Regions from separate parts of the Homo sapiens genome. Here regions 2, 3, 4, 5 and 6 are each reported to be linked to region 1. Evidence: microRNA targets listed by miRTarBase, many of them from high-throughput screens and not tested one by one. Region 1 holds a microRNA gene; each other region holds the end of a gene's coding sequence.

The links. Region 1 holds the annotated microRNA hsa-miR-4498 (UGGGCUGGCAGGGCAAGUGCUG, at 2,969-2,990, shown strand). A microRNA usually pairs through its seed, bases 2 to 8, with sites in the 3' UTR of a target mRNA and lowers its output. Matches are read on the target gene's strand: a 7mer-m8 pairs with bases 2 to 8, a 7mer-A1 pairs with bases 2 to 7 and ends in A, and an 8mer does both.
Region 2: miRTarBase lists STAC as a target of hsa-miR-4498. Seed matches in the 3' UTR shown: 7mer-m8 at 934-940 and 7mer-m8 at 1,332-1,338.
Region 3: miRTarBase lists ADGRL1 as a target of hsa-miR-4498. Seed matches in the 3' UTR shown: 7mer-A1 at 914-920, 8mer at 1,348-1,355, 7mer-m8 at 1,621-1,627, 7mer-m8 at 2,347-2,353, 7mer-m8 at 2,399-2,405, 7mer-A1 at 3,009-3,015 and 1 more.
Region 4: the mRNA of SLC7A1 is a reported target of hsa-miR-4498. Seed matches in the 3' UTR shown: 8mer at 4,167-4,174 and 8mer at 831-838.
Region 5: miRTarBase lists SERPINH1 as a target of hsa-miR-4498. Seed matches in the 3' UTR shown: 7mer-m8 at 4,187-4,193.
Region 6: the mRNA of NAA40 is a reported target of hsa-miR-4498. Seed matches in the 3' UTR shown: 7mer-m8 at 868-874 and 7mer-m8 at 1,598-1,604.

The regions. Positions count from the first base shown.
Region 1 is chr12:120,153,379-120,158,462 of GRCh38, reverse strand. MIR4498 (microRNA 4498) reads left to right here and starts at 2,964; the gene lies at 2,964-3,029. GCN1 (GCN1 activator of EIF2AK4) reads left to right here. Exons shown (of 58, transcript NM_006836.2): 25 at 1-3; 26 at 433-614; 27 at 1,471-1,551; 28 at 1,859-2,002; 29 at 2,744-2,871; 30 at 3,033-3,222; 31 at 3,423-3,493; 32 at 4,554-4,719; 33 at 5,056-5,084.
Region 2 is chr3:36,545,453-36,550,536 of GRCh38, forward strand. STAC (SH3 and cysteine rich domain) reads left to right here. Exons shown (of 11, transcript NM_003149.3): 11 at 739-2,555. The coding sequence ends at 837. Among named protein-coding and RNA genes, the nearest start is that of STAC, 170 kb to the left of the region's middle.
Region 3 is chr19:14,146,491-14,151,490 of GRCh38, reverse strand. ADGRL1 (adhesion G protein-coupled receptor L1) reads left to right here. Exons shown (of 23, transcript NM_014921.5): 23 at 1-3,748. The coding sequence ends at 618. The region is part of intron 1 of ADGRL1-AS1 (ADGRL1 antisense RNA 1); the gene reads right to left. Among named protein-coding and RNA genes, the nearest start is that of ADGRL1-AS1, 12 kb to the right of the region's middle. RefSeq lists an enhancer at 2,870-3,613.
Region 4 is chr13:29,510,156-29,515,239 of GRCh38, forward strand. SLC7A1 (solute carrier family 7 member 1) reads right to left here. Exons shown (of 13, transcript NM_003045.5): 13 at 1-4,428. The coding sequence ends at 4,325. Among named protein-coding and RNA genes, the nearest start is that of MTUS2-AS1, 25 kb to the left of the region's middle.
Region 5 is chr11:75,571,552-75,576,635 of GRCh38, reverse strand. It overlaps SERPINH1 (serpin family H member 1), which reads right to left. Exons shown (of 5, transcript NM_001235.5): 5 at 3,853-4,855. The coding sequence ends at 4,553. Among named protein-coding and RNA genes, the nearest start is that of MAP6-AS1, 9.1 kb to the left of the region's middle. RefSeq lists an enhancer at 1-129.
Region 6 is chr11:63,953,711-63,958,794 of GRCh38, forward strand. NAA40 (N-alpha-acetyltransferase 40, NatD catalytic subunit) reads left to right here. Exons shown (of 8, transcript NM_024771.4): 7 at 262-339; 8 at 628-3,609. The coding sequence ends at 769. Among named protein-coding and RNA genes, the nearest start is that of NAA40, 17 kb to the left of the region's middle.

The DNA of each region.
Region 1 (5,084 bases):
CAGGTAAGGGCTGGGACGGGATCAGGGGCACCAGGCGGTGTGAGCTGGTGCCAGGAATGCTGCTCAAGGCACAGCGTCACCCAGGGCCTCCTGAGCCTGGGGGATTGGACCATATGGAGGATTTCTGAATTGAACCTTCGTAGTCTGTGAATTGCAGTGAGCCCAGTTGAGGGTTTACTTTTTGTCACTGGTGTCCCCATCTCTGTTTTAACTCTCACATCCTGGAACTGGGCAGTGTTTGGCAGTAGAAGCAGAATTGGTTTTAGAACTGGACTACCAGCTGCTGTCTCTGTCCTCGTGCCATGTGCTTCCAGGTGTCAGAACGGGCCTCTGGTCCATCCGTTCCCTACTTTCCCTGAGGATAGAAATAGGCAGCAGTGGCCCGGGTCCCTGCCCTGCCTGCAGAATCTTATCTGCTTCTCGCTCTCACAGGTGCTGCGCCCTTGTCCGCGCCAGCCTTCTCCTTAGTCTTCCCGTTTCTGAAGATGGTGCTGACGGAGATGCCCCACCACAGTGAGGAGGAGGAGGAGTGGATGGCCCAGATTCTTCAGATCCTCACTGTCCAAGCCCAGCTGAGGGCCTCCCCCAACACCCCACCCGGGCGGGTGGACGAGGTTGGCAGGGAAGCTCTGCTCTCCTCTTGGTTTAAAGGGGATCAGGGAGGCAGGGCCTGTGGACACGTTTTGTCTCATGAACAGTTCCTGGTGGGGAAATAGAGAGTGTATGTTTATACCAACAGCAGCCTCACACAGTGTTGTGGGTTTTTTAAGGCAAAAACGGGTCAGACTGCTTCTTTCATGTGATTGTAGACTCTGGCTCTCCTGCCATGCCAGTACATGTCAGTTCACCTGATTGACTTTGTTGGCTGCATGAGATTCTGTGCTATGGATGTACCATGTTTTACTTAACTCTTTACCTGTTGATGAGTTCTTAAGGTTGTTTCTAACTTTTTCCTGTTTTGAACAGCACTGTGATGTGCCCTCTTGTATGTATATGCCCCTTACTTAACCAGTGTGAGCATTTCTTTAGGACAGGTTCATTGGACATGGAATTACTAGATTATATGGCATATTCTGAGCTATACTCTCACCAAGAGTTTTCTTTTCTCAAAGCCTTAATGCAACCTCAGATAGTATTAATATCGTCAGTGATGAGTGAAAGAATGATAATCTCATTTTATTTTGCATTTCATTTAAAGTTGAGTGTCTCTTCATATATTTACGGTCTTTCTGGATTTCATAGTGTGAATTTCAAGCAAGTTTCAGAATTTAGTTTTTAGTTCCTGAGGATCATGGTTGACTGGGGTTAGCACCTGTGGACCTAGTTGTAAACTTAATGAGGTTTCTGTGGTGGGGCCGGTTGTATGATCCAGAATGTTCCCCCGTGGGTGAGAGGATGCCCTGCCGTTGGCCGCCTGGGTTACAGACCTCCCCACAGCCTCATCTCGACTTACCTGCCGTTCTCTCCTAGAATGGCCCGGAGTTGCTGCCTCGCGTGGCCATGCTGCGTCTTCTGACTTGGGTGATCGGGACGGGCTCGCCTCGCTTACAGGTGATGTGGTTTTCAGTTGGCTGTTGCTGTGACTCAGTTCGTGACCCAGACCTCAAGTCCCAGTGTAAAGGGTGGAGTCCTAGTTTCCTTTCAGCCCTTACTTTTGGACTTTGGTAGAAAGACTGCTTTAGAGAGCCAGCCTGACTGTTGTTAGCTAGTGAGGGGTTTTGCTTGGGTCCTGCCACTGGAGCTGGGGTCTTAGCCCTTGCAGTGCTGTAGGGGTGGGTGTTCTCAGTGCATATCCCTCTCTGGCCCCCTAGTAGTAAATGAGTTGCTGACTGAACCAGTGGATTGATGTTCTCCTTAGGTTCTGGCTTCAGACACCCTGACCACCCTGTGTGCCAGCAGCAGTGGTGATGATGGCTGTGCCTTTGCAGAGCAGGAGGAGGTGGACGTGCTGCTCTGTGCCTTGCAGTCCCCGTGTGCCAGCGTGCGGGAAACCGTGCTCCGGGTGTGTGCTCAGTCTCAGAGCCACTGCAGTGTCCCTTGTCACTCTATGCAAGTGCAAATTGCATGATGGGCATTTGAGAGAATGTCCCTCACTCTGGTGGGAGGCCTAGAGGCAAAGAGAAGAAGTCACATGGTTGGGGTCTCTCTGAGAATCAGAACACTAAGCAGTCATGATGTATCACTGTATTTTTTCCTTTACCTTGGAACACTTCACTTAATTTTTAAACTGGAATGTGGACCTTGGTACTTCCACGGACAGAGCTAACTTGCAGGAGGAGTTCAATTCTTTAGCCCACTGCCATGTACTTGGTTTTTCTTCATGGCTTTTGGACCAAAAACTGAAGCATCCCCTTGTAGTGGTAAGACAGTGGTTCCTACCTGCTGATCCACAGCCTCCTGCTATTGATATGTGACAGAGTTTTCACTGGCTTTTGGTAAAATGTGAAAATGATGACAATATAGTAAATTTTTCCTTAAAATTTTTTTGAACAAAAGGAATACGCTTTTTCTGAGGTTTTTATCTGTCTGGTTTATTTAACGTTTTAATTTTCACATTAAAAAAACATTTTACCACCTCACACTCTAAGGAACTTACTTAGAGTTAATTTTAATTGATTTAACTTTAGCCACATGCGGTTAGTGGCTACATCTTGGACAGTACAACCTAGAGAGAGGTGAGGAGGCAGGTCAGAGGCTCTTCTGAAAGATGATGCCTCACACGGTCCAATCCCACCCCTTCCAGGGGCTGATGGAACTCCACATGGTATTGCCAGCACCTGATACTGATGAGAAGAATGGCCTGAACCTTCTGCGGAGACTCTGGGTGGTCAAGTTTGACAAGGAGGAGGAGATCCGGAAGCTGGCTGAGAGGTGAGAGAGCCAGCATGTCGCTTTCTCCTGCTGCATCCTCTCTTCCTTTAGGAAATAACTGAACCCAGTGTGCTCAGCCTCCAGTGGGAAGAAGGGCTGGGCTGGCAGGGCAAGTGCTGCAGATCTTTGTCTAAGCAGCCCCTGCCTTGGATCTCCCACAGGCTCTGGTCAATGATGGGCCTAGACCTGCAGCCAGACCTCTGCTCCTTGCTGATTGACGACGTGATCTATCATGAGGCGGCTGTAAGGCAGGCAGGGGCCGAAGCCCTCTCCCAAGCAGTGGCACGTTACCAGCGGCAGGCGGCGGAGGTTATGGGCAGGCTCATGGAGATTTACCAGGAAAAGCTCTACGTGAGTGACCTGTGCAGCCCTGATGCAGTCTGGGTGTGTGCGGTTGGGTGGGTCTCTGCTCACCCCGCTACTGCTCCAGACAGGAATCTCGGGGCTCACGGTGGCTCAGGGTAGCTGCGGCTAGTTTCCTGCCTCACAATCCTGGTGCCCAGGTCATTGATCTGCCCGTTGCAAAGCATTTACCAACTTGTCTGTTGCAGCGGCCGCCCCCAGTGCTGGATGCTTTGGGACGAGTTATTTCAGAATCTCCTCCAGATCAGTGGGAAGCCAGGTATAACAATTGTTCAGCCTCGTTCTACTCCAAGCTTTGTGAGATGTGGCAGGTTGGCTGGGTGGGTGCTGTGAGGAGGCAGCATGGGTTAATGAAAGAGCAGGACCTCCCTCAGAGTCGGGGAGGCCTGAGTTCCATCAGCCCCTGGAAGGGGTGGGATTGGACCGTGTGAGGCACCATCTTTCAGAAGAGCCTCTGACCTGCCTCCTCACCTCTCTCTAGGCTGTACTGTCCAAGATGTAGCCACTAACCGCATGTGGCTAAAGTTAAATCAATTAAAATGAACTCTAAGTAAGTTCCTTAGAGTGTCCTCTCCTGCACTAGCTGCGTGACCGTGAGCGTGTTTCTCCTTTTCCCCAGGCCTCTGTTTCCTCATCTATATGCAGGGCACAATAACAGAAGCTACCAGCCTTTCTCCACAGAGCCCATGAGTAGCAGTTGGAGGATTAGACAGATGTCTGGGAGCAACTGGGACATTGAAAGACACTTGCCTCCCACAGAGCAGGCTCAAAACACGCAAGGGTGTTAGTTCTCTGAATGGCTCATCCTGGCCGTGTCCACTCCCGTGAGGCCTTGTGTGTCAGTGTAGGGTGGTGTATGGGCCCATCCTGGCTTATTTTTCATTCCAGACCATCAGCCAGGGATAGGACACAGATTCTTTGCTCCATGACTGGAAAGAGTAACAACACTTTGCCCTTGGAGAATGTGTTCACTTCCACAGGCCTCTACATCTGGTTCTTTTACCTCTGTGTTCTCTTACAACCTGCTTTGCAGGTAGAGGGGTGAGCATTGCACTCACATTCCTCTCTGGGGAAACCAACACAGGGCTGGTCACCCAGTAGGAGGTAAAATCAGGGCAGATGGCAAGTCTCCATATGACAAGTGGGTTGTTCCAGAACATTGGGTGAGCACTGGGTGGTGGGCTTCAGGCTGTTCTCTGCCCCCAAAACAGTGTTTGCCTCAGGCAAGCTCCCTCTCCTTGCCGTGCACCAGCAGAGGTTCCACTGGCAGAGGAGGCCCCCTGACTGCCCCTCCTGATGTGCTCCCACTTCTTTCCCAGGTGTGGCTTGGCGTTGGCCCTCAACAAGCTCTCCCAGTATTTGGACAGCTCTCAGGTGAAGCCACTCTTTCAGTTTTTTGTCCCTGATGCCCTCAATGACCGACACCCAGATGTCCGGAAGTGCATGTTGGATGCAGCCCTCGCAACGCTCAACACTCATGGGAAGGTAAGGGGGTCCCAGCCAGGGAACACCCACGGGAAGGTAAGGGGGTCCCAGCCCGCTAAGGAGACACGGGAGGCAGGCGCTAGGGCTGAGCAGGGGCCAGAAATGCTGAGTGCCAAGAGTCCTGGCAGAGCACTTTGAGCCAAAAAGACCATGATAGTGTGTTAAATTCTTTTAAGTCTGTGGCAGTCCTGCCAGAAAACTGGAAGAGCCACTGGCTGGCATGTCAGGATGCCTGTCCCAGAGCTAGACTTGGTCTTGGTCCTCAGGGCAGGGACTGTTGTCCCCAGATGCAGCCTGTAGGGTTGACCTGAGGCTCTGAGGGGTTTGGCTTTCCAGGAGAACGTCAACTCGCTGTTGCCAGTATT
Region 2 (5,084 bases), not on the chromosome of region 1:
CTGGGGAATCCAACCTAAGACAAGGCCTGTCATCCATGGAAGCAGGTGAGGCAAGAGAAACTCACAACACAACAATAGTTCTGTTCATAAACCTCTTCTAATTTTCATCTGCCCACATCCACCCTTCTATGCCCTTCAGTGGCCAATGAGTGGTGAGTGGCAAGAGTATCCAAATGAATGTTTACCAACCCCTTTTTAAAGTCTAGCATAGGTGGCCTTACTTTAGAATATGGGAAATGTTAGCATCTATTTGCTTGAGGCCAGGAGTGAAATAGTTCCCTTTGACTTCCTGATGTTATATGAGGTGCATATAAAATTCTGAGCACATGACAGGAGTCTGCTGAATGATAGCTATTATTTTGGTCCTTTAAAATAATGTCCTGAGAATTCATTGCATGCCACATGCTAGGCTCCTTGACAAACATTATTATCTCATTCTGTCCTCACAGTGACTCTTCAGAGGGTCACAGTACTATTAATCCTCATTTTATTGATCCTCATTCATAAAGCTAAATTTCAGAAAACATTCAATGCCTGGGCCTCATTCCAAACCTAGGTTTTTGCCTAATTTTTTATCAAACCTTTTTCTCACTGTGCTGGTTTCCCACCCTAAAACTGCTCTCCCTTTTCCAGTTTGTTGCTCCTGCAACCTCAGTCAGCAGGGATTCAAGCTGCAGGTTCTAACTTCGTTCTTGCTGACAGTAAAGTATTTTGTTTTTTTTCTTCCTTGGCATTCAGATCTGCGTGAGTTCTGAAGAAGAACAAGATGGTTTTATCAGAGTCCTCAGTGGAAAAAAGAAAGGCCTCATCCCCCTTGATGTACTAGAAAACATCTGATTGCTGGCTCCTCCTCCGTTTGCAGTAGGCAAGCTCTGCTGCGATGCCTCTGCCTCATCTCACACTGCGTCAACCCAAAGGAGCTGCCGCACTGACCCAGCCCCCCAGGAAACAGTGAGACAAGAATCAAGTATCTGAGACTGTGGAGTAATAGCCACAAAACAGAGGGCCCACTGCACAGCATATCCAGGCTGCCACAGGTGGGGACGAGGCTGAGAGAGTCAGCAGGCAGAGCCAGATGCCATGCTTGGCAGCAGCAGTAGGACTATAAACCACAGCTGTCCCCCAGGATCCCACTCCTTTCCTGTCTGTGTGGTGTAAGTTAACACACTGGAGTGTGCTCCAGTTTGCAGGGTAGCCCAGTGCAAGGTTCAGATCCATGTAGCTAAGTATTATCCTGCTTCCAGACCTATGTCACCAGTACCAATCAGTCAGTGTCATCACATTTCAGGCCCCAAGCAATCTCTGTGCAAAGCATCAGAAAGACCTGCTTCCCAGCCCCCAGCATTCCAGTGCTCTCCAGGCTTCCTCTCTTTGTGATTGTGCTGTCCAGAGTGTCCAGCTTGTTCTTTCTTTCTCTTCAGTCCTCTGAGTACATCTGGTGGTGTGCATTAGATGTGAGGGCTATGTTGACATGGCATCACCTCCAAAGACCTGACCTGCCTAAAGACTGATGACAGGCCATCCTTCCTGCTGTTCTAGGTACTGGCCTGGGTGACAGAGCAGGACATGAGACATAGATACAGTGGGGAGGAGAAGTGGGGAAAGGTGGAGCAGAGAGTTCTTACTTATTGAAGATTATACAGCCCTTTCGGTTATGAAGTCCCTGCTTGAAGGCAATGGACCTGGGGAAGAGACTATCACAAAAAGTCTCCATTTTCATTTTACATCCTCTCTATTGGAGGCAGCACTTTTCCCTCATGCTGTCCTATAGGACTCCACTTTGAAGGTTGTGCCTACGTTGCAGGGAACTAGGAACATGGAGGGGAACCAACAACAGCATCTTAGAAGAAATGTAGCCAAATTGGAGTCCATTCTTCTTTAGGGCAGTATATGAAATCCTAGCAGATGTAAAATGGAAAAGAATCCTAATGCTTCTTCCTTCAGAAAGTAGAGGAACTAGGGGCCCAATTAGCATCATCTAGGGGAATCTCTATTACTCTGTACTTATACTAATGTTTACAAGAATGCAATATACTGTGATGCCTTCCTACTCAAGCCTCCTAGCATTCAAACTTCCATCCTATTAGTCATTAACATGGTTAAACTTCAATTCACAATCACCTTGGAATCAATGTCAGTTTGATTTATTTTGTTACAGAGCAATAAAATCATTAGAACAATGGTTTTTAAAAGACTTAAGTGGATGCATCCTATGCATGTAAGCATTATTTCCCAAACCAAAGCATCATTCATCTCCATTTATTTCTTTTGTTCCCGCTCAGTGTGAAGTTGGGAACTGAGAGGGGATGGCTGCTGGTTTCACAGAAGTTTGGATGCCTTACTCTTATCTTAAAGCCAGCATCCAGAATTTCCTCCCTCTCTGATGCCACATGCAAAACCAGGTGTACGATGTCAAGATGGATTCTTTGAGAGCCAGGGTAGATCATATGACTGCCTTTCTGTAAAATTGGATGCCTAGTACAAATGCTCTTTGCCTCTAATTCAGTATTCCATTTAATAAAAACAATACAGTGGCTGGAAAGGAGCATCAGAAACATGTGTCCTGATCTCTTCTTTCTGTCATGATATCCATTAACTTTTTGGTACAATGATGTCACATCATATGCATGTTTAATTAAGATGAATCTTAAAAATGAGTTTGCCTTTTACAGTTGAATAGAAGGAAGATGTGGTATCTAGCCTCCAAGGTAGTCTCCCAAAGATCCCTACCTCCTCATATTCTTTCCTTTGTGTAGTCCCTTCCCACACTGAATCAGGGCTGGTCTTATGTGACCAATAGAACACAGCAGAAGTAGTACTACAAGGCTGTCTTAGTCTATTTTCTGTTTCTATAACAGAATATCTGAGACTGGTTAATTTATAAAGAAAAGAGATTTATTTTGCTGACAATTCTAGAGGCTAGGAAGTCCAAGAAGCATAGCGCTGGCATTTATTTGGCTTCTGGTGGTGGCCATGTGCTGTATCATAACACGGCAGAGAAGCAGAATAGAAAGTAGGCATGTGCAAAGAAATAGAGAGAGACCAAACACAAGGAGCAGCCTTGATTTTTAACAACTCACTCTTGAAGTAACAAACCCAGTCCCAAGAGAGCAAGAACTCACTCACACCCGTGGGATAGCATTATCTATTCATTATGGATTCTCCCCATGACCCAAACACCTCCCATTCAGCCCACCTCCCAATATAGCCACAATGGCAATCAAATTTCAACATGAGTTTCAGAGGGGACAAACTATATTCAAAACATAGTAATGACCCCATCTCAAATTGCATCTGAGGTTAAGTTTTAAAAGCAGCTTTAGCCTTGATCTCTTGGAACACTCACTGTTGGAACCTTGAGATACCATAAGAATTTCAACTACCCTGAGGCCACCATGCAGGAAAGACCCTGTGGAAAGACTACATATTTCATCATCTGAGGTGGCAGACATCACAGAGCAGAGATGAGTCGTCCCTGCTGAGCCCTGCCCAAGTTACAGATTTATGAGCAAGATAACTATGTGGGGATTTTTTAAGTCACTATGTTTTGGAGTGATTTGTTATACAGAAACAGATAACAGAAGCAGGGGTTTTGTAATTTAAGTCAATGTTAGAAGAGAAAAATGCTCTTTCTACACAATCAGGCCCAAAAGCGTTGCAAACATCAAGTGTTAGCAGGCAATTATCCCTCTAAATACAAGATATGTAGTATTCCCTAAAGATCTGGAGTCATCCAGACCTAAGGGAAAAAGCAAGATGTTCCTCATAGTATAGATTTCCATGAGTGCTTACACAAACACAGAGATTTTAGGAGCCACAGCTTTTTTTTTCTTGCCTGTCTGCAGAAATTAAAAGCACAAGGATAGCTACGGCCTACCAAAGTCTTAAAGGTTTGCAAGACTCAGAAAATGGCTAAAAGAAGGACCATAATTTTTGAGTGGAGAAGAGATGAAGATCTCAGGAGATACTCTGGTGAGGAGACAGGGAAGGAGGGGAAGTGTCCATATGAAGAATAAAAAGGGGACCTGAGGGATATGCTTTGTAGTGTACGAAAACAGCCTTGTACCCCCTTACCTCTGCCCCTGCCTATAGCCAAGGGATGGTACATACCTAGCTGCACCAGGGAAGATATGCCCTATACTTCATCACTAGTGCCATAAGACTTTACTTCTATTATAGTAAATTTGAAATGAAGAACTGAGTGAACCTTCCTCAGGGCTCCAGAAGGTGGAGAATAGAACTCCCTTTACTTCCCATCACTAGCAGACATCTACAGCACCTCTCACATGGGCAGCAGGGTGGCAAAGAGAGCCCATGTGTAGATATCCAGATTGCTAGATTTCACAGACAGATACCCACATGGCTAGATTTCACAGATGGTTGATTTCACAGACCACTTTTCCTTCCCAAATACACAACAAACACCACCACCACCACGACCACCCATACACACACACTAATTCACTCCCATTAAGAGGAAGGGTCCAGCATTTGGGTTGCATATTTAGAGCAGGTAGTGGAGAGAATATGGCAGGATCTATTAGAGTTAGTGTTCTTTGCTATTAAAGAGAGAAAAAACCAGTGGGAAGATCACAACACCTTGGTGCCAAGTACTGTTAAAAGACAAAAGAGCCAGTTGTCCAGGAAATTGGCTACTCCAAGGAGGAGAGAGCCAAGAAGGAAATCTACTGGCCAGCCTAAGCCTAGAGCCAGGTCCAGTCAGAAATGCAGCTGTGAAAAAGTGGTGTGTGGGAGAAAAAAGCTGAGATTTAAATAAAGTGAACTTGACTTCTTTACTCAGGACTTCTCAGAGCCTTTAATTTGCTAATTCTCATAGTAAATCTCCAAAAAGGAGATTTAAAACTGTGGATCACCTATAAGACTCTCCTAAAACAACATTCCAAGGAACATACTTTGGGAAATTCTGCAGTAAAGCATTCTCATATCAGATCACCCAATAGCCCCTATGCTTCTACTATCCCCTCTCTTCCTACATCTCACTGAAATACTTACAAAGGGCAAAAGCACTCAATCCTAATGATAAGAATGAAGACAATCTATTCTGGGATCTGAGTTGGTAGGAG
Region 3 (5,000 bases), not on the chromosome of region 1:
CGAGGCCGGAACCTAGCCGATGCGGCGGCCTTTGAGAAGATGATCATCTCAGAGCTGGTGCACAACAACCTGCGGGGGAGCAGCAGCGCGGCCAAGGGCCCTCCACCGCCTGAGCCCCCTGTGCCACCTGTGCCAGGGGGCGGGGGCGAGGAAGAGGCGGGCGGGCCCGGGGGTGCTGACCGGGCCGAGATTGAACTTCTCTATAAGGCCCTGGAGGAGCCTCTGCTGCTGCCCCGGGCCCAGTCGGTGCTGTACCAGAGCGATCTGGACGAGTCGGAGAGCTGCACGGCCGAGGACGGCGCCACCAGCCGGCCCCTCTCCTCCCCTCCTGGCCGGGACTCCCTCTATGCCAGCGGGGCCAACCTGCGGGACTCACCCTCCTACCCGGACAGCAGCCCTGAGGGGCCCAGTGAGGCCCTGCCCCCACCCCCTCCCGCACCCCCCGGCCCCCCCGAAATCTACTACACCTCGCGCCCGCCAGCCCTGGTGGCCCGGAATCCCCTGCAGGGCTACTACCAGGTGCGGCGTCCTAGCCACGAGGGCTACCTGGCAGCCCCAGGCCTTGAGGGGCCAGGGCCCGATGGGGACGGGCAGATGCAGCTGGTCACCAGTCTCTGAGGGCACCTCATGGACCAGGGGCTGGTGGCCCAGGCCAGGGAGGGAACCCTGGGCAGGGCTCTGGTGGGAGAGGGAGACAGATGGAGGCAGTGGCTGGTGGGCCACTCTCTCCAGGTGCCCCTCAGCCATGGGCCCTACAGTCCCCTCAGGGGACTCTAACCTGGGGGCCTGAGGTGCCAGGGTTCACAGACAGGGTTTCCCACCAGCCACACGCACCAGCTCTATTTGGGGGAAGTGTAGTGAGGAGGAGCCCAGAGGACCCCAGGGGAGTGAGGAGGGAGAACTTGGAAGGGTGCAGCCCACTTCCAGACTCTCCCCTCTCCCACCCTTCTACCCTGTGAAGGGAAATGAGGGCTTTAGTTTCCTGGGCAGGGAGGGGCAGCTTCTGAGGTTGCCAAAGGCCCCCACTGGATGGAACCTGTTAGCTGCTCCTCTCCGCAGCCAGAAATGCTGCCGGCTGCACCCAGAGGGAGCAGTGAGGCAGGACAGATGGACAGGTTCCTCCTGCGCTGTAATTCCCTGCTCCCTGGAGACTGGGAAAAGGCCGCAGGGCAGGGGGACTGGGCGGTGGTGGCTGGTGGTTTAAAGGTTGAACTTTCTCTGAAGCTCCTTTCCCCTTGCTCTTGGTCCCTGCCCCGCAAGCAAACCTGCCCCCTCTGCCTCCCAGTGCACCCAATGACCCCCTCCCTTGGGGCGACTCCTGATGAAGCACAACTCCCCGCAGGGCCCCCAGCCCACAGGGGTGGCCATATTTGGGCAGTTCCCAGTCCTGTGGGCTCGGCTATCTGGGGAGCAGATTTTGGGTCTGGATCTCCCTGGGGAGTGGGTCCTGGGCTTGGATCTTTCCCTAGGGGGCCCTCTTACTCCTTCCTCTCTCCTCCTCCTTCCCCATTGCTGTAAATATTTCAACGAAATGGAAAAGAAAAAAAAAAGACAAAAAAAAAAAAAAAGAAAAGAAAAAAAATCTCATCACTTGAAGCCACCGGGAGCCTGCGGCCCGGGCCAGCCCGGGCTTTCTCCGGAGCAGAGCAGCGCTGCTGGCCTGGCAGCCAGGACTTCTCCGTGTACGTGCATCCCCAGTCCCCGCCGGGGCGGGCGGGCCGCCAGAGCAGCTTTTTACAATCCAGAGACAGAAAACAAAATCTAGATGCAACAGCGAAACAAAGAACCCATTTCCTTCCTGGCACCCTCCTTTCCTGCTCCGCCTGCCCGGCATCATCAGCCCTTCTGGGGCGTGTACCTCTCACTGCCTGCCCCAGGACCAGAGGCCTGTCTCCCCCTTCCCTCCCCACCGGCCCGGGGGAGACCTCTTCACACCCAAAGATGCTTTGTCAAGATGGCTGCGCTGTCCCTTTGAGTTCCTGCTTCTTGTATATTGCTCTGGGGACTCTCGCCGGGGAAGATGGGGCTGATTTCCCACCTAGAGAGGTTGATGGCAGAAGGAAAATGGGGAGGCACTGGGGTTGTGGAGGGCATGGGTATGGCTGAGGAGGGTGCTGGGAACGGCAAGGCGGTCTGGGGGATGGGGAGGGGCAAAGGTGAGAGATCACCTTCCCTATCCTCCACCTTCCCGCAGGGAAGACGAAGCCAGGTGCCAGGGCTGGGGTCGGGACACCCATGTTCTGGGCGGCTTGACCCCAAATCCCAGACCCCGGAAGCTCCAGGCTCGGGATGTGTCCTGAGCACCTGTCCCGGCCCCCTCCTCTCCAGCCTGTCAGGCCAGCCTCCCCAGCCCCCTTCCCTCAACTCTAGGGGCAGCATAGCCCCAGGCCACCCTAGCCCAGCCCCTGCATTGCCGTTTCCCCAGAGGTGGCCCCTCCACCTCTGCTCTGACCTCTCCCCATCTCTCTGCCCCTCCTTTTCTCACAAGTGCCATGAGTTTTCAAACATCTTCGGGTCTCAGCCTGCTGCTGCCATGAACTTTGTTGGGTTAAGGGGGAGGGGCTCTAGGAAGGAACTGGGGGGAAGGGGACAGGTAGGTGGCTGGAGGGACCCTTTTTGCTGCTAGAAAGCCCCTCCCTTCTCCCGGGGAGCTGGGGCTGGCTTGTCCCCATCAATTAGGGGAGAAGGGGTCAGACCAAAGATGGTGGTTTGTCCCGTGTAAGGGAACAGGTGTGGGGAAGAGGTGGGGTTGGGTTCCAACTCTGGCTTTTTCTGGTAGAAAGGCCTAACCCATTACACCAGAAGACCATGGGTGAAGTCTAGATGGGGAGGAGAAGTGAGGCCAGGGACAGTCTTGCCAGACGACTCTGAGGAGGGCAAGGGACAGTTCCATGGCCCTTCCCGGACTGCACTAGGCTGGGAGCTCTGTTGTGTGGAGGGGTGGTCAGAGGTCTGTGAAGAGCGGGCAGGAGGCATGAGCAGGCGAGGAGCTGGCCTGTCCCGGGAAGCAGCCCAGCCTGTGGCTGCCCCCGACACCAGGAGGAGGGCCAGGAGAGTTCCAGGGGGCTGAGGCACACAGAGAGGCCAACTTCCTCCCTGCCCAGCCTTCCTTGTATCTCTCCAGACTCGGACAATCAAAGGGAGAGAGGGTGTATCGGGTCCTGTTCCAGCCGGCATCGCCGGGTGGCTTCCAGGCCTCAGAGCTGTGTGGCAGGGCCCCCTGCTGGGGCTGGACATCACTGCAGTCCAGTGCAAAGCCGCCCCCAGAGCCCAGGTGTCCCCCCAACCTAACCAGACCTGGTGCCTTGACGCCCCCACCCCAGCTGGGACGGTACAGAGAAGGGTCTTGGTTTCCTCTCCTACTCCCTTCCTTAGGCTCCTGAACTCGTTTGCTCCTAAATCTTGTTAATTCTTTTTCTCTGGATTTTGGTTTCTTTTGGCTTTCCCTTGCCTTCCCCTTTCTCTGTCTCCAACACTCTTTCCCCATGTCTTTCTGGCTGTCTCTATGTTCCTCTTCTCTTATCCTCAACTTTCTGTCCATTCGGGCCTCCTCCCCACCTCCCACGCCCCAGCCCCTCCCTCCTTGGTCTCCTTTTCGATATGCCAAACCAATTTTGGGTCGAGTGCATTTAACGAGAACAAAACAAAAGGCTCATAACAACAAGAACGTTTCAGAAAAAAACAAAAAGTTTTAAAAAAATTGTTGAGTCAAAAAGTCAAACAATAAAGAAATTAAGATTTCTTGGAATGACAAGAGTGGTGTGACTTCTTGAGTGGGGGAGTAAGAAATGGGTGAATAGCTGGGCGCGGTGGCTCAGGCCTGTAATCCCAGCATTTTGGGAGGCCGAGGTGGGTGGATCACTTGAGGCCAGGAGTTTGAGACTAGCCTAGTCAACATGGTGAAACCCCATCTCTACTAAAAAGACAAAATTAGCTGGGCGTGGTGGCAAGCACCTGTGGTCCCAGCTACTTGGGAGGCTAAGGCAGGAGAATTGCTTGAACCCGGCTGGGAGGCAGAGGTTGCAGTAAGCCAAGATCGTACCACTGCACTCCAGCCTGGGCTATAGAGTGAAATTCTGTCTCAAAAAAGAAAGAAAGAAATGGTTGAGCAGATCTGCACAGGGGCGTCCCCATGGGCTCTGGTCTGCACTCGAGCATTCAGAACCCCTGGCAGAGGCTTGACAGTTATAGAATCATTCACGTTTATGAGACCTTGGTAAGTTCCTGGGCCTGGTGGAGCATTTCATGTGCAGTTTCTCTGAATCCTCACAAAATCCTCCCAGATGGAGACAGCGATTAGAGTTCCATTTTACAGATGGGGAAACTGAGGCTTACAGCCCTCAGATGCATGCCCAAGTCTCTCTGACCAGGCCACTGTTCCATGCTGTCTCACAGAAGCCCTTCTTGGCCCAGACGTCTGTCCCCAGGCTGTACTAGAGCAGAGCTCAGGAATTTTACACTGTGATGTCTCATTACAATTGCCATTCCTACACTCCCACACGCTACTGGCAGGGAGTGCTTTCAAACTTGACACACGGTGGAATTGCATCATGTGTATTTCACGTTGTCAGTTCACCAACGAACTGCCCATGCTCAGAGAGAGGCATAACTACTCAAACTACAAGGATCCTTTTCCGGGCCCCTCTGCCTTAAAAAGATACCTGTGTCTAGGACACCACCCACCTCCCCACAACAGCCACTCCTTCCCAGTCTTCATGGCTGGCTCCTTCTCATCTGACCTCCTAATGATGGGGAACCCAGGGGCTCAGTCCTTAGACCTTTTCTCTCACTCCCTGGAAGGTTTCACCCCATCTCATGGTTTGAAATGCCTCCGGGTGGGTGCAGTGGCTCATGCCTGTAATCCCAACACTTTGGGAGGCCGAGGCAGGCAGATCACGAGGTCAGGAGTTCGAGACCAGCCTGGCCAACAAGGTGAAATCCCGTCTCTACTAAAAACACAAAAATTAGCTGGGTGTGGTGGCGAGCGCCTGTAGTCCCAG
Region 4 (5,084 bases), not on the chromosome of region 1:
AGCACATTTGTAGAATGACCCAGGAGGGCTCCATGGCAACTGTGCCCCGAGACTCCAGGCCCAGCCGGGTCCCGATGGCGAGAGCGTTGTGGCTCAGTGAAGCACTGGCACAGAAAGGCTGGACTCGAGGAATCGAGGGGTGAAGATGGAGTCGGCTGACATTTTTTGCCTTAAAAATACATTAGGAGTCATAAGCGTGATGACACATGGAGTGTAGCTTCTTGCACCACTGGATCAACAGTAATCAATTTCATGACTCGGATAAGGTCCCCAGGAGCCTGGCAGAATGTACATCTCCCTCTCCCTTCAGAGCCTTACATATAATCTTCTCATGACGATGGCAAACAGATATATTTTAAATTACACGTAACAATTATACATAGTGTATATCCAGATCCGTCTGCAGGCGAACTCTGCATCAGTTCCACATATAAGCCTCACGCCCCCACCACCCTGCAATTTCCCCGTCCTCGGAACTGTCTCACGAGACCACCAGCGCACAGACACGAACATGCCTCTCACACACCCCAGAACGCAGCTGTGCTGGAGTTGGGCACAAAGGCCCCTCACTCCCTGTCTTCATGGTGTGGGTTCTTGGCTGCCAACAGAACTGTCAGCCTTTATTAAGAAGGAAGGGTCTGTGTAAAAATGGGATGTGTGAATCAGAAGAGGGGCCCTGGCACAGAGCCAGGCAGGCTTGCTTTAGCATTGAGTCCTGCGTCGCGCAATGCCCAGGACCTTGCCTGTTAAGTCTGGGTGGGGCCCCTATGGGGCATGTCCACGTGCCCCCCACCAGACTCATTGCCCTGTCTCCAGTCTCCACTGTGGGTTGGGCTGGAGGCCATGCCACGTGGGACTGCAAACACCAGCCAGTTCACAATGCCTGCTCCGTGGCAGGGGCACGGCAGGGAGGAGCTGGTATCATCAGCGTTTCCACCCATCTGAACAAAGGTGAGCGGGCCATGCACCCTTCCAGCTGTGCACAGGGATGTGCTGAAGGTGCAGGAGGCAGTGCGTCAGGGCCTTGGTGGCTGGGGTAGGTGGAGAAGCCCGCTGCCCCCACCATCCTGCGGTCACCCCTGGACTCGTATTGGATCCTGGCCACTGTGCTAGAGTCAGCACAAGGGACCAGGTGGCTGGCTGCCTGAGAGAGAAAATAAGTCACAGTGGAAAGAGTTTTTACTGCTGCAAAAACCAAAAGTGGGGGGAGATCTCAGCAATTCTGACAACAGTATACATTTAGCGACCTTTCTGAGACAGCCTGGGGAAAATGCATCTATCACTGTCCTCTTGATTTGGAAAAATAAATCCGATGCATAAAGCCTTGGACAAGGGTGTGTGAGCAGGGATGATAAGTAGAGTGGGGGGTGTGTAGAGGCCTGGTCTCCTCCGGACGGTGCCCCTCCCAACTGCAGAGCTGCCCTCCTGTAAGCCGGCTCCCGAGCCAGCTGCCAACAAGGCCCCCACTGCCTCCCTGGAGACCCACTTCATCCCCCTCTTCAGCAGAGGTCCTGAGGCAGGGGGGTGGAGATCTGCTGGGTTTGCTGCTTCATGAATTTGGGCCTTCGGAGGTCATGAACACATGCAGGGCAGTCACAGGGGTTGTGGGAGACAGGAAGGGATGTTTACCCATCACAAATGGGTCTTTCCAATGTGGGTATTTGTGGCTGGTGCACAGATAAAAGTAGACACAATACTCCTTGGTGGGTGTGCCTCTAGTAATGTGTAAGTTCTGACTATGTAGGAAAATCCTGGCCAGTGGAACTAAGAATATTCTTGTTTGGGCAAGGGAACTAAGAGATGTGAAACTATCATTTTTTTTTTGCTTGTGTGTATTTTTATTTCAGGGAAAGAAATGAGGGATATGATAAGAAAAAGTCTATTAAAATTGTAAGGCTTACTCCAGACACCATTGCTTAAATCACTCCCCTCTCACACAGAGAGAAAACCCCTGGCAAGTGCACAAAAACACTACTCATAAAAGCACGGTGACCAGTGAACTATTATGCAAGGCACCCCCACGTGTCCTTTCCTAACCAGGAAGCCCGTCCTCTAAGGAGGGGGCATGGGTCCCATCCCTGCCCAGCCTAGGCGTGCTTCTGTGTCCAGCTTTAAGGCCTCTGCGTGAGGAAGGCCACAGACTCCCAGCTGTCAGCACGCTGTCATGATGAGACTTGGAGCAGGGGAGACGCACCTTCTCAATCTACAAAATGAGCCATGGCGCCCATTAAAATGTCAAATGTCAACTCTAAATAGTCTATTGGGTGCTGTCTTGCACGGAAATCTCAGCCAGAAAGAAAAACTAGAGAAAAGAAAAAAAAGAAAAAAGCAATTCTCTCCCACCACTTCACTTTTCTTGGAGACTGTCTATCCCTCGAATTCTCTTTGCCTATGTAGAAAATAACGGAAAAAAAAATCAAGCAAATAACTACCAGGTCCTAAGACAAGAGACAACCAAAACCCCAACAAAATAAGTTAGTATTTATCAAAATATGTTACAACACCAATCTCCATAAATGTCAATATCACTCTTTGGAAATCGGAGCTCTGGGCTCTTATGATGCTCCCTCTGGAACATTCAAAATGAGATCAGAATAAAGCTCCCAGCAAGGTGAGCAGGCCTGATACGGAGGCTCAGCCCATGGCCATCCACCCGCCCTCCACCGCCGTGTTCACAAATTCTTGCACTTCTCTCCAAGAACCTTCTGGGGGCACAGGGAGGGTACAAGTGCCCTCAATTTATCAGGCTTCTTTCTACCAGATTTGTGTCAAAGGCCAGACTAGGAAGAAATGGAAAGGAAACTAAGTTTTGAAAGCAGCATTTCCATTTCCCCTGGTGTCCAAAATGCCCACATCCCTCCTCCTCCCCCATCAGCATGGGCCTTCTGTCTCCTGAAGTAGACTCAGTGGAACGCTCCACCCACGTTCAGGTTTCCTCTGGCTCCCATCTACAAGGAGTGTGTGTGAAATGGTGCTGGCCGCAGGCCCCGACCCAGGCAAGACGGGGGTGGCGTGCACTGGAGCTATGGGGGTGGGGAGGATGCTCGGGTCTCTCCCACTTGCAGAGGCGTGGGGTCCGAAGCATCCGGATGACAGATACACAAAAGGGACAGCAATATGCCTAGAAATCACCTCCCCTGCGACCCACGCATCTCAGCTATAGGACAGCCGCAGGGGTGATGACATGGCCATTTCCAAGTTAATGTTATGCCCTAACTTAATCTGGTGGAGTGTCACAATTTCATGGACTGTGGATTGATTTCAATTTCATCATGTCACAGAGAGGCCAGACAGCTTATGTCAGGGCCAGAAACGCATGACCCCGACATGTCCTGACCCCAGACTGAGCTGCCACCAGCCTTGAGAACCTTACAGGAGCCACCAGACTGGCTCCAAAGCATGGGAGGGCAAGACTGAGTGAACGGTGGCGACTCACAGGAAACAGACTTCTGACTCGGCCACCATGGGGCCAGTCCTGCAGATACTGTCTCATGTTCCAGTTACTCAGGACACAGCCAGTCGGGGGAGACGGCAGGAGCAGCAAGAACTGGCCCAGGCCTGGAGGCCGTGAGCTGAAGGTCCCTGGTTTACATGCATGTGCACACACATGCATAAGCAAAGCAGGCCCTAATGGGAGTGATCCCTTCTTCCTCATTTGAGTGGAGCCAGCTGCCCTCAGCCCCGGGCAGCTGTCATGGTGTCAGAGCAAAGCCCTGAGAAGCCAAGGGGCAGGCAGGGTCCGGCCCTAATGACCCATCTGAATGCAACCGGAGAAGGACAACAGGCCTGATTTTCCTTTTTAAGTGCACTACTGTCATTTGGCTCTGGGGTGGGGAGCTGCTGGGGACACACTGTTTTGTGGTACTCATCTGGCTTGATTGCTGGGTGTCTGGGGCTGAGCGGGAAGATGGCTGCGAAAGTTTGGAGTATGCACAATTTCAATCCCAGAACAGTCCCCGGGAGGAAGGCCTGGTTCCCAAGATAAGGAGAGAAGGTGACCTCCGTTCTGCCTGAGGCTGCGGCAGCTCGGGGCTGAGCTGGTAGGGGAGGAACTGCTTTGTTCAGAGAAGTGAGGAGACACAGTGGCCAGCCGCAGCCTAGTGGCCCCGGCCAGGCAGCTGTCTGGAGGTGACCAGGGCCCGGAGAACCGGCTGCAGAGCCGAGGGTGGGCTGGGGCTGCAGGTCAAGTAATTGCACCTTTGGCTGCAGTGAGGGTGTGGACGCAGGTGGTTTCTGTTGCACTGGTGGGGAGGGTGGGGTGCCTCCCGGTCCTCTGGGGGCGTCCCTCGGGGCTGCTGCCACCTCCGGGGGGCGGGGCTGTGCGTCACTTGCACTGGTCCAAGTTGCCGTCAGGAGTCCTTGCTTGGTCGGCATCCAGGGACGCCTCCTCGCTGTGCCACAGGCCATAGCCAAAGTAGATGATGAAGCCTGCGGGCCGACAGCAGAGACGGGCGTGAACAGACCGCCGGTTGCACCACCGCAGGCAGGGCTCAGAGCCCAGGGCGGTCCCACAGCAAACCCTCTCAGGCGGCCTGCCCCTGCCTGGCATGAGCCCGCAGCCAGCGGCCCCTGTGACCTTTCCACATCTGGAGCAGCTGCCACACGAAGGCCACTGTCTGCTTCGACATCTGGCAAAGCCCTACGTTCCTCTGGACGGCCTTATGCTGCGGTGTTTCCTGAGCAGACAGAGCAGCTGGGCCAGGGCCACCAGAGGCCATCGGGTCCTTCAGCTTAGCCCCCTGATGCCCCCGGAGGCCACGAGAGTATCGAGAATGTGCACTATGGAGATGGGGTTTCCCGCAGGTGCTGGAGGTCTCCAGGCTCTCAGCCTGGACAGTCCCACTGCCCATTTCTCCACATAACTGAGCGTCAGACTGCAGGAGACACTGAGCCCCAGGAATGGACTTCACATAGGAGTCCACAGCCTGTTCCTGCACACGGGACTCCAGGGTGGGTCCAGGACCTATGCTTCTTACCACCTGCCCAGGGGCTGGGGCCACCTTGTGTGGCTGACACAGGAAAACAGGCCTTAAAGCAAGGACTCAGCCACCCACAGCCCAGGAAAGGAGCTCAGGCTCCTGCAC
Region 5 (5,084 bases), not on the chromosome of region 1:
GGAGACGACCACGTGGTGGGGCTGAGCAGACTGAGAAAAGTCACACTTGAGAAAACGGAAGACGGCAGCAAGATGCATGAAGGATGGTGTGTCTCCAGGGCACCTGAAGGGATGCTGCTGTGCATGCTGTCATGCTTCTGTCTAGGGGCCTGGAAGGTTCCCTGGGGGTTATAGTATCCTTTGAAATAGGCCTCTAAGGATGAGGGGGCTCAACAGGCAGAGATGGGAGGGGCCTGGGACCAGGCAGAGGAGACAGCATGGGCAAATGGGAAGGGGAGATGGTGAGAACTGAGAGGGGCTGTAGAGTTAGCGGGAGTGGCGGGACAGAGGATTGGGAAATTCAGAGGGATTGAGTGGCGAGGGCCATCTGTCCTGCCTCTAATAATGCTCACTGACCCTCTGAGTGCCTTATCCAGGGGGTTCCCATCATGTAGCAGTTCAATCCTCCATCTCCCACTTCAGCCCTCCTCACCACCCCCCTCCCTGTGTTCCACGATCACCCTGCCCATCGCAACTGCTGCACCTCTGTTCCAGCTGTTCTTCACATCTGGAATGCTTCTTTCCTTCTTGTCGTCCAGCTCCAGCCCCTTCTTCCAGGAGTCTCCCCTGACACTTCAGCCCAGCCTGAACCCAAGGCACTGTGGCATAATGGAAGGGGTCAGGCTTTTTACAGTTGCAGAGAGGTAGGCTCAAATCCCAGCTCTGCTGTATGATTTTGAATCACTACCTTCTCTTATTAGTAACTACTAATAATGTTTATTGGCTATGTATTTGCCAAGTACCATGGATTACCTCATTTAACTTTCACCACAACCTTATGAGGTAAGTACTGTTATCATTTCCACCTTACTACTGAGGAAACTGAAGCTCAGAGAAGGTAAGTAACTGACCCATGGTCACACTGCTAGGAAGTGGCAGAGCTGGGACGCCCGTCAGGTCTGTCAGGCTCCAACGCCTCTGCTGCTAAACACCACAGCTCCCACTAGACTGCTTCCTTAGAAGGTGCATTTATTAGGCGCCTCCTGTGTGCCGGGCATTGTGTTAAGTGCGGGGATGCAGCAGGACACAGGCAGACAAGGGCATGCTGTCGCAGAGGTCACAGCTGGAGTGTCAGGACAACAAGCCCCGTGCTGCAGGGACTGGGGAAAAGATGGGTGACCGCCCCCTGCAAACTGTGGAGCATGGAGCTCACACACGTCAGTAACTTCTCCTTCCTCTACAGCCAGGAAACCTGGGTTCCCATGTGAGCCAAGCTCTGTCACTGTCCTGCTGGGTGGCCTTGAGCTGGTCACTTCCCCTCTCTGAGCCCCAGTTTTCTTGTCCATAACATGGAGCAGTAATAGCTACTCTGGAGGGAAGTCTGAAAAGTAAATGAAATCATACATGGCAGTGCCAGGCACACAGTAGGCACTCAGGAGAAGGCTAATCCGCATCCACATCTGGGACCCGCACAATCCAACAGGCTTATTATCTCCCAAGACTTTAACAAGCACCAGGGTGAGAATAACAGGGTAATCCCTCCAATGGCCTCCAGGCAGCAGGAAAGCTCCACACAGGGCAGTGATGGGGCACTGGGGGGCAGCAACACTGGCTGGACCAACCTCTAGACCCCACCCCACCCCTAACTCACCCACCTCTGCCACCTGCACTGCCACTCACACACCAGCAACTCCAGTCCTCACGGACGGGTGTTTGAGATGCAACAGCACAGACCTCTTACCACCCTCCCCACCTGAGTCAGGATGGAGGAGCGTGGCCTCAAGACCCCCTTTGGGTCCTCTCGGTGGCCCCACACCCGGGCCTGGCTTATTTTACTGCCCATTCCCACTTGGTGGGGGAGCTGTCACAGGCTGAACTTCAGGGCCAGGAGGCCTGGGTTCCAGCCCAGTCTCTGCCTTCTCTGAGCTACACCTTGTAAAGTTAGGATGACTTCCCACCTAACGGGGCTATTGCAAGGATTAAGAGAGATGGATACAGATCGTATGCAAGTTAACATGCCTTCATTACTAGAATCTGTGCTCAGTGCTGGGTTCCAGGCACTGTGTTAGGGGCCTCTCCTGCCCTTCCTATGTGGCGAAGCAACTACCCAACCGACTAGGATCTAGTCCCAGCTCGGCCCCCACTGACTGTAGGGCCTCAGGCAGCTCACTTAACTGCTCAGCCTGTTATCTCACCTGTAAGATGGGGACAATCCCTACCTAACTAGCCAAGCTGTTAGGAAGCTTGGATAAAATTGTACATATTAAGTATTTGGCACATAGGAAGAGCAAAACACAAAGGCGTACCAGCTGGTTGCACTCAAAGCATTATTCTGATCCAGAAATGCCTACTCACCCTTTAAAGCAGCCCCCATATCACCTCCTCCTGGGAGCCTTCCTCGATATGTGCATGATGCTAAAGCTAGGTGCAGGATTTGCTGCAATAGACAAACAGCCATGGACCCTCTCTTCATGGAGCTTCCATTCTAAGAGGGGAGGCAGGCAGGGAAGTCTTAAGTGGGTAATTTCATAGTGCTAAGGAGTCAGTAAAGTGAGAAATCATGGTAGAGAAACTGAGGTGGGAGAGGGACTGCTTGTGTAGGGTGGTCAGGGAAGGCCTCTCTGAGCAGACGTTTACGCTGAATCCTGGATGACAAAAAGCAACCCTGCAAACATCTACAAGAACCGCCTGCCAGGCAGAAAGGACAGCTAGTGCAAAGTCCCTGAGGCAGGGGGACAAGCGTGGCACACCTGGAACAGAATGATCCAGGTGCCTGGAACACAGTGAGCACTGAGTACCCTATCCCTAAGTCTCCACCTCTAGACAAAGCCCCTTGAGGATAGAGATCTGAATGATTGAGCCGAAGCACAGGATGGCCCTGGGACTCTGAGCAGTCTTGCTGAAACTCTGTCGTGGCAATGATGGGAGTGAATCAGCTGGCCCTTCTGCAGACCCATGTACATCTTGGTGGCTACTGCTGGATTGCTCAGCCAGGTAAGGGGTCCCTTCCTGAACCAACAACCCCCAGGTCACAATCTTTGGCAGAGGAAAGCTGGACGTGCCCAGAGAGAAAAATGACCTGTCCTAGGTTAAAAGGCCAGCAGGCAGCAGAAATGGGCCTCCAGCCCAATATCCTCTGCTCCTCTGCCTCCCTGGCCACTGGCTCTGTTCCGTGCATCCCTCTCTCTCCCTAAGGTACGGTGTCAGGAGCCCTAAGGACCATGAGGCATCCAACCGGAGGACTGTGTCAAAAAGGACCGTGTTGGGTGCCTCCTCCTCCCCTGCTACAAATCCAACACTTCGGGCCACCTAAGGGCAAGGATCCCCACAATCTCCTTCCAAAGCCCAGCCCAAAGCCAGGCAACTTACTAAATGTGTGCCTGAGTTTGTACCTGTAGCCCTGGATGTAGCATGAGGTCAGCGTGCAAGGAAAGGCTAGGGGAGCTGGGCATAGTGGCTCATGCCCATAGCCCTGCCTGTAGTCCCAGCTACTCAGGAGGCTGAGGAAGGAGGTTCGCTGGAACCCAGGAGTTTGAGTCCAGCCTGGGCAATATAGCAAGATTCACATCTTAAAAAAAGGGTAAAGAAAGAAAGGCGAAGAGGCTGAAGACTGGCTCCAGGTCCAGTGCTCTCATTCAGGTCCTGCAGCTGCTACTTCTCCAGGGCTGCCAGAGCCAGAACCATTTCCCGGGTCAGCACGGAATGCACCTGCCACTTGGCGCTGTCTGCACAGTGATCTGCCAGCGATCTGCCAGCATTCCAGGGCCTGATATGAGCCATCAGTAGCGAGTCTGCCTTAACAGGAGACCTTGTCCCCTGGGAAGAATGGTGTAAGAATCTCCTGATCCAATCTTCTTCCACGCTCCAACAAAATGTCATTGGAAAAGTTTTATTGAAAAAAAAAATGTACAAATAAGTTCTTGGATTGATAGCAACAAAGGCTCATGTTCCCCCTTCCCTCCCTATCTTTGAAGAACTAAAAAAGGAAGAAACAAAACAAAAAGTTCATCCCCACAACGCCAGACACGATGCTTCTTGACCAGAGTCTGCCCAGAAGCCCCTCCTGGGAGCTCCTTCTCAATCCGCCTCACTGCGGCCAGGTCATTCTGGGGGTGCCTGGTCCCAGGGGCTGCAGCACCTAGTTTTATAGTTGGGAGAGGTTGGGATAGAGCTGGGGAGGCAGCTGAGGTGTTTTAGTGTCAGAAGAGGGCTGGCTGACCCCCCTAGCTCAATTTGGTCTCACAGGTGAGAAGGTACCTGGCTATAAATATGAATACTGATTGAGGCAGGCTTGATCTGGGACTTTCAGGGCAGGCAGAATGACTATGGCCCAGGTCCCACAGGATGTGGAGTTTCCGGGCTCAGCATCATGGTATCTGGGGCCCATGTCCAAGTGGAGTGAATTCTAGCTGGGAAGGTCCGCTCAGGCACACGGGAACCCCGGTCTGTTTTTCCACCCCCACCCCATGGAGTATCCAAGGCTGGTACCTCACCTCCCCCCCAACCCCAATAGCACCCATGTGTCTCAGGAGCCTTTGGATGCCTCCTGCCATCCTGTGTGCACCCTGAGGCCCTATAACTCGTCTCGCATCTTGTCACCCTTAGGCCGGACCAGGCGCCCAATGAATAGCAGGGAGCCGCTTTGGGTGTCCCGCACTAGGAAGATGAAGGGGTGGTCGGCGTAGAACAGCTTGGGGCTGCGCAGCTCCTCGCGCCCGTAGATGTCCTGGTCAAAGGGGTTGCCATCTGTGTCCAACTCAAAGGCGGTGGCGTGGAACACGCTGGCCAGGTACAGGTCCTTCTTGCCTGACATGCGTGACAAGTCGGCCTTGTTCTTGTCAATGGCCTCAGTCAGGCCCAGCCCAGCCAGGTGTTTCTGTGGGAACAAGGAGGTGTGCCAGGTGAGGCCATGGCTGCCAGGCTCCTCCACCCTCAAACCCTCCACCCCATACTACCCTGACCGCTCCTCAGAGAGGAGAGAACCACCCCCTGGTCACCTTCTGTATGCCAGGCATGGCACTGGCACTTCAAATCACAGCTTTCTCAATTCTCACTGCAACCCTACAAGGGCTTCTAATTGCCACTTCACAGATGAGGAAGCTGAG
Region 6 (5,084 bases), not on the chromosome of region 1:
CCAGGCTCAAGTGATCCTCTAGCCTCAGCCTCTGGAGTAGCTGGGACTAAAGGCACATGCCACTATACTGGGCTGATTTTTTTAAATTTTTAAATGTTTTGTAGAAATGGGGTCCCACTATGTTTTCCAGGCTGGTCTCTAACTCCTGGGCTCAAATGATCCTCCCACCTTTGCCCCTCAAAGTGCTGGGATTACAGGTGCATGCCACCATGCCTGGCCATGTTTCTCTTTCTAAAAGGCGTTTGCTCTGCTTTCTTCCAGCACACAGATGAAGAAGGTTATGTTAACAGTATTTAAACACAATCATGGTGCCTACCAGTTCTTCAGAGAAGCGTTGCAGTAAGGAGCTGGGTGTGGGCCCTTCTGGGTGGTAGGTGGGCCTGCCCAGGGCCATTTTTCTGGTCCTGGCCCTCACTCATTCTGATGCCTGAGCTCATGGTCCAGTGGTCCATGGGGGTTCAGGTTCAGGGAGATGGTATGGCAGTGCTCTCTGATTTGGTCCACTGTCCACCTCCTGCACCCTCATCCTAAGGGTCTCATCAGTGTGGCTGGTAGAAGAGTTCTCGGGCCAGGGAGGAAGGCACTCAGCTGCCTGCCACCAACCCTTTTCTCCTGCCTGCCTTGCAGATTTGAAATTGATGACTCTTCCCCCAGCATGTCCGGTTGCTGTGGGGAGGATTGCTCCTATGAGATCCTGAGCCGGAGGACCAAGTTTGGGGACAGCCATCACTCCCACGCGGGTGGGCACTGTGGTGGCTGCTGCCACTGAACTCTCAGAGCCACTTTCAAGTCACAATGCTCTCTCCTAAGGCCTTTCCTCTTTCCTGGTCTCACTGTTCACCGGGTGTCCTCAGAGCTGTGGCCTCCCCAGCCCTGCACGTGCCAGGCTGCGCCCTGAGAGCACAGAACCCTGGGGAGAAGTGGTATCAGCTGCTCCTCCTCTCCTAGGAGACCAGAGTGCTAGAAGGGAATGAAAGGGAGAGGGAAGAGTAGGTGGGGCCGGGCAGTGAAGCTCATCCTCCACAGTGGCTGCCTCCTCATTTGGCTCCTGGGGCCTGCAGTGGAGGTTCTCGCACCTCTGCAGCCCCTAGATTCCTGGCAACCTCCCCTCCCCTGACACATACACACTTGGACAAATGGAATGTTTATGTCCACCTTTATGAAAGTTCTGGAGTCCTGGGTCTGGGGTTTGCTGGTCCCCAAAGAGGAACACACTGGGTGTAAGATCTGGGTGTAGAGGGCGGCTTCAGAGAGACTCACGCTTGCGCAGTTGGAATTGCTGTTAACGGAGACTGGGAAGATCTTTTGTGCCAAGATGCAGGGAAATGAAGAAAGCTCTTTCCAGCTGTTTTTATGGATTCATGGAGTGGGCTCATGTTGGGACCAGCTGACTCTGGGAGGAAGACTGCCTCTCCATCGCTGTCAGAGAGCCTGAAAGGACCAACAATGAGGTGTTCTTGGGACCCGCCATGGGGATGATTGCTTCTCTAGGCTCCTGGATGTTGCTGCATTCTAAGCTTAACCTCCTGGTCTCATGGCAGTGACTTGAGCTTTTGATTCATAGAAGAAAGCCAGAGGTTCTGCTTGTTCTTGTCTGCCAGCCCTCGTCGTTCTTTCTCCTCTGCCTCTCACCTCTACCCCAAATACCTCTGTTCTTAGTCTCAAGGGGAGAATAACATCAGGGAGCCCCTCATCTTCCCCAGAAGGACTTCTCGTTCCTCATGTAGTTAACTCCATTGATTTTCCTATCTTGGTGCTGATAGCTCTCTAAGGGTAGGGCACACCTCCCCACAGCCACCCTCCCTCTTCAGAGAGCCCCCAGCCAGCAGCAGGCCCCTCTGCCTGCACTCCTCAGGCTTGCCCCTCGCTGCCTCAGTGAGGCACTAGTGCCACTGCCGTGGCCCAGCCGGGCCATAGCTCAGGCTGCAGCAGAAATGCCTCTCAGTGGCCAACAGTTGCTTTTCTCTCTGGTGTCACCCTGTGGCAACAGGCTGGAGCAGGGGAAGGAGAAAGCCTTCCTCTTCTCTCATAGGATAGAAAGGCAGGCTCAGAACTAATGCTCATCCTGATCTCTAGGCCTTGTTCCTCTTCCAGGGAAGAAAAGCCAAATCCTTATCAAGGAAAAAGCACCTAACAGCTCCCTTTGGATATCCCTGAGCTCTGCTGTGGGGAGTATCATAAAGGTTCTAGCCTTCGTGAAGTTGTTCTCGTGGAGGTCTGTTGGTCCCTCTGACCTCAGCATCTGCTCACATCCCACCCTCTGCCCAACTCTGGCAGTCTCTCCTGGCAGATCTCCCCAGAGTGGTCCTTGCTTCTCACCTGGATTCCTGCTTGTGCAGGAGCCTGTGTACACAGGGCCTCCCTCACCCAGCCTGGCCCCTCTGCTGAGCACTTTGCGCTGCTCTTGATGGGCAGCAGTGGGACTGGGAACTCCTTAGAGAGGGCCTTGCAGCTTTACACTGGAATAAGTCTGCCTCTGCCTCTGCCTCACCCTGCTGGCTCCTGGTGGGTTTCATCCCAGGCAGAGTTGACATTGCTGGAGGGGTTTGGTGGACTCCTAAGAATCATGAAACCACAGGAGCATGTTTAGGAAGAGATTTGTCTCTGGTCCCTGTCTCTGAAAGGACACAGATGCTAAATATTTATTGTCTTAGATCATGGATTCCTGATACCTCTCACTCAAGGGGACCAAAAGGGACCCCCCCGTGTTCATCCCTTGTAAGGTGAGTTCAGTCTACGTTGTCTCTTTCCAGTCACTGGATACGTGGCACCAACTGGTCAATGGGTGCTTGGTGCCATACCCTGCTCACCCTAGTCTCTGCAGGCCATGTCCTGAAGGGTTCCTCAGGAGGTCGGGACTAGGGTGGGAGAGGCACTATCTGAGACCTGCAATCACTCTTGTTGGTCTTGAGCCCATTCATTTCCAAAACATCCATCTTTCTCCACTTCCCCCAGGTCTTGGTTTTGAGAAACAGCAGGCATGGCTGAGTGCGGTGGCTTACACCTGTAATCCCAGCACTTTGGGAGGCTGAGGCAGGCGGGTCACCTGAGGTCAGGAGTTCAAGACCAGCCTGGTCAACATGGCAAAAGCCCATCTCTACTAAAAAATACAAAAATCAGCCAGGCGTGGTTGTGGCCTGTAATCCCAGCTACTCGGGAGGCTGAGGCAGGAGACTCGCTTGAACCCAGGAGGTGGAGGTTGTGGTGAGCTGAGATCACGCCATTGCACTCCAGCCTAGGCGACAGAGTGAGACTCCATCTCAAAAAAAAAAAAAAGAGAAACATAGCAGGCCTTTTTTACCAGGCTTTTTGTGTTTTGTTTGTTTGTTTGGAGCATGTTAAGATTTTTTTAAGATTTTTAAAATTTTAGTTATATCCACCCTATTTCAGGTTATTTTTGTTGGTGTCAAGTATGTATAGGACATGTGAATGGTTCTTTTTAATTTTTTTTTAAGAGGAAATTTGGAAGATAAACTCCTTGATATATATATATATATATATATTTTTTTTTTTCTTTAGCAGCTTGTTATCACTGGAATCAAAGGGAAAAAGTGATCTCTTCTTGCATTGGTTGTATTTGTATGTCACAAATAAAAGACACTTTGGTCAGCTGCTGAGATGGCTTCCTGATGCTGGGGCACCATGGGCAGCGTGGATCTGGGAAGCTCTGGACCCTGAGCCTGTCCCAACATTGGGCCCGAACATCAGGAGGTGCATAGCTATGATAGCCCCATGCTGGAGAAAAAACTCAGGCTGTCCGGGGCAAGCAGCCAGAGCTGGGAACAGAGACCAAATGTATGTGTTTGTGCCACTTCCCAGGAGTTCTGAGTAGAGGCCAAAGGTGTTCTGAAGGGCGCCTGCTTTGCATCTTGGAGAGAAAGTCCCAAGCCAGGCCTTGTGACATTTGAAATCTGTGTCCAAACGTAAATTCCAGTGCCCATGTGTGGGAGGTGAATAGACGAGAGTGCTTCTTTCCTCTTTGACTTCATTGGGTTACTCAAAATATTCTTTGTCTCTTAAGATTCCTGCCCTCTTCCATCCATTCACAGAAGACAAGGCTCCAAGGAAGGGGAGCTCATGTCAGGGCTGCTGGGGCAGGAGAGTTATGAGCTGGTGGAGGCTGTGACCCCCTAGTGTGACAGATGGAGCTGTGCAGGTTGTTCCCCAAGCAGGGCTCCTGCCAGCCCTGGCCCGGGGGAGCTGGAGCTCAGTACTTTCTGTGGACAGTGGAGGGGCTGCCCCATTGTACTCTGCTTGGTGGTCTGCATCTGCTGGAACGGGGAGCAGGAGACCCTGATCCACATGGAGTGTTCGTGCCCTGGCAGAGCAAGCATCTGGGGAAAGAGGAGCCAGGGTTATACCTGTTCCGTGGGTCCCAGCTGTGGCATGTTGTGGCCTCTCCCCTGTGGGCAGGGGCACACCCGCAGGTGGTTTGTGCAGCTGTCTTATCTTTGAGGCCCAAAGAAAGGCAGCACAGCCCTTGGGAAGGGAGAGCAATTTGCCTGGCGAATCACATGGCCAGTTTCCCATGTGACAGAATTCTGCCCCTCAAGTTATTTGTTCCTTGAAGGCTGTGTTTTCATCCCAGGCAGAAACTTCCTGGAATGGCCATCCCCTTGCTGAAGGGTGAATGGCCACAGTTGGAGAGCTTGGGGCCATTCCTTCATCCCTGCCGGCTGAGTGCAGGGAGAGTTGAGGTCTGCACCCATTCCTCCTCCTTCTCCACCTTCACAATGGCCTGGGCCCTCCACAGTGGCTGCTTCAGTGAGGTGTGGTGTGACTTCTGGGTCTGCCCCATGCTGCTGCCACAGCTTCAGTGGGCAGGCGGAGCAAGAGGCACCACCGCTGAGCAGTAGACAGTCCAGAGCCTGGGCTGGACTGAAAGGGACTATGTCCCCAGCGGGAGGGACGCCACTCACCAGATGGTTTCTGCCGCCAGCTTTGAAGGTAGTTCAAACTAGGGGGCAGGCTTTTCTAGTTTTGGCTAGAATACTCCCTCCCCAAGTGCAGCAGAGGTTGTTCTATACCCCTGAGGACAGACGGGGTCTGGGGAGAGGGGATGTGTTGCTGTGGAGCCTGGTGAA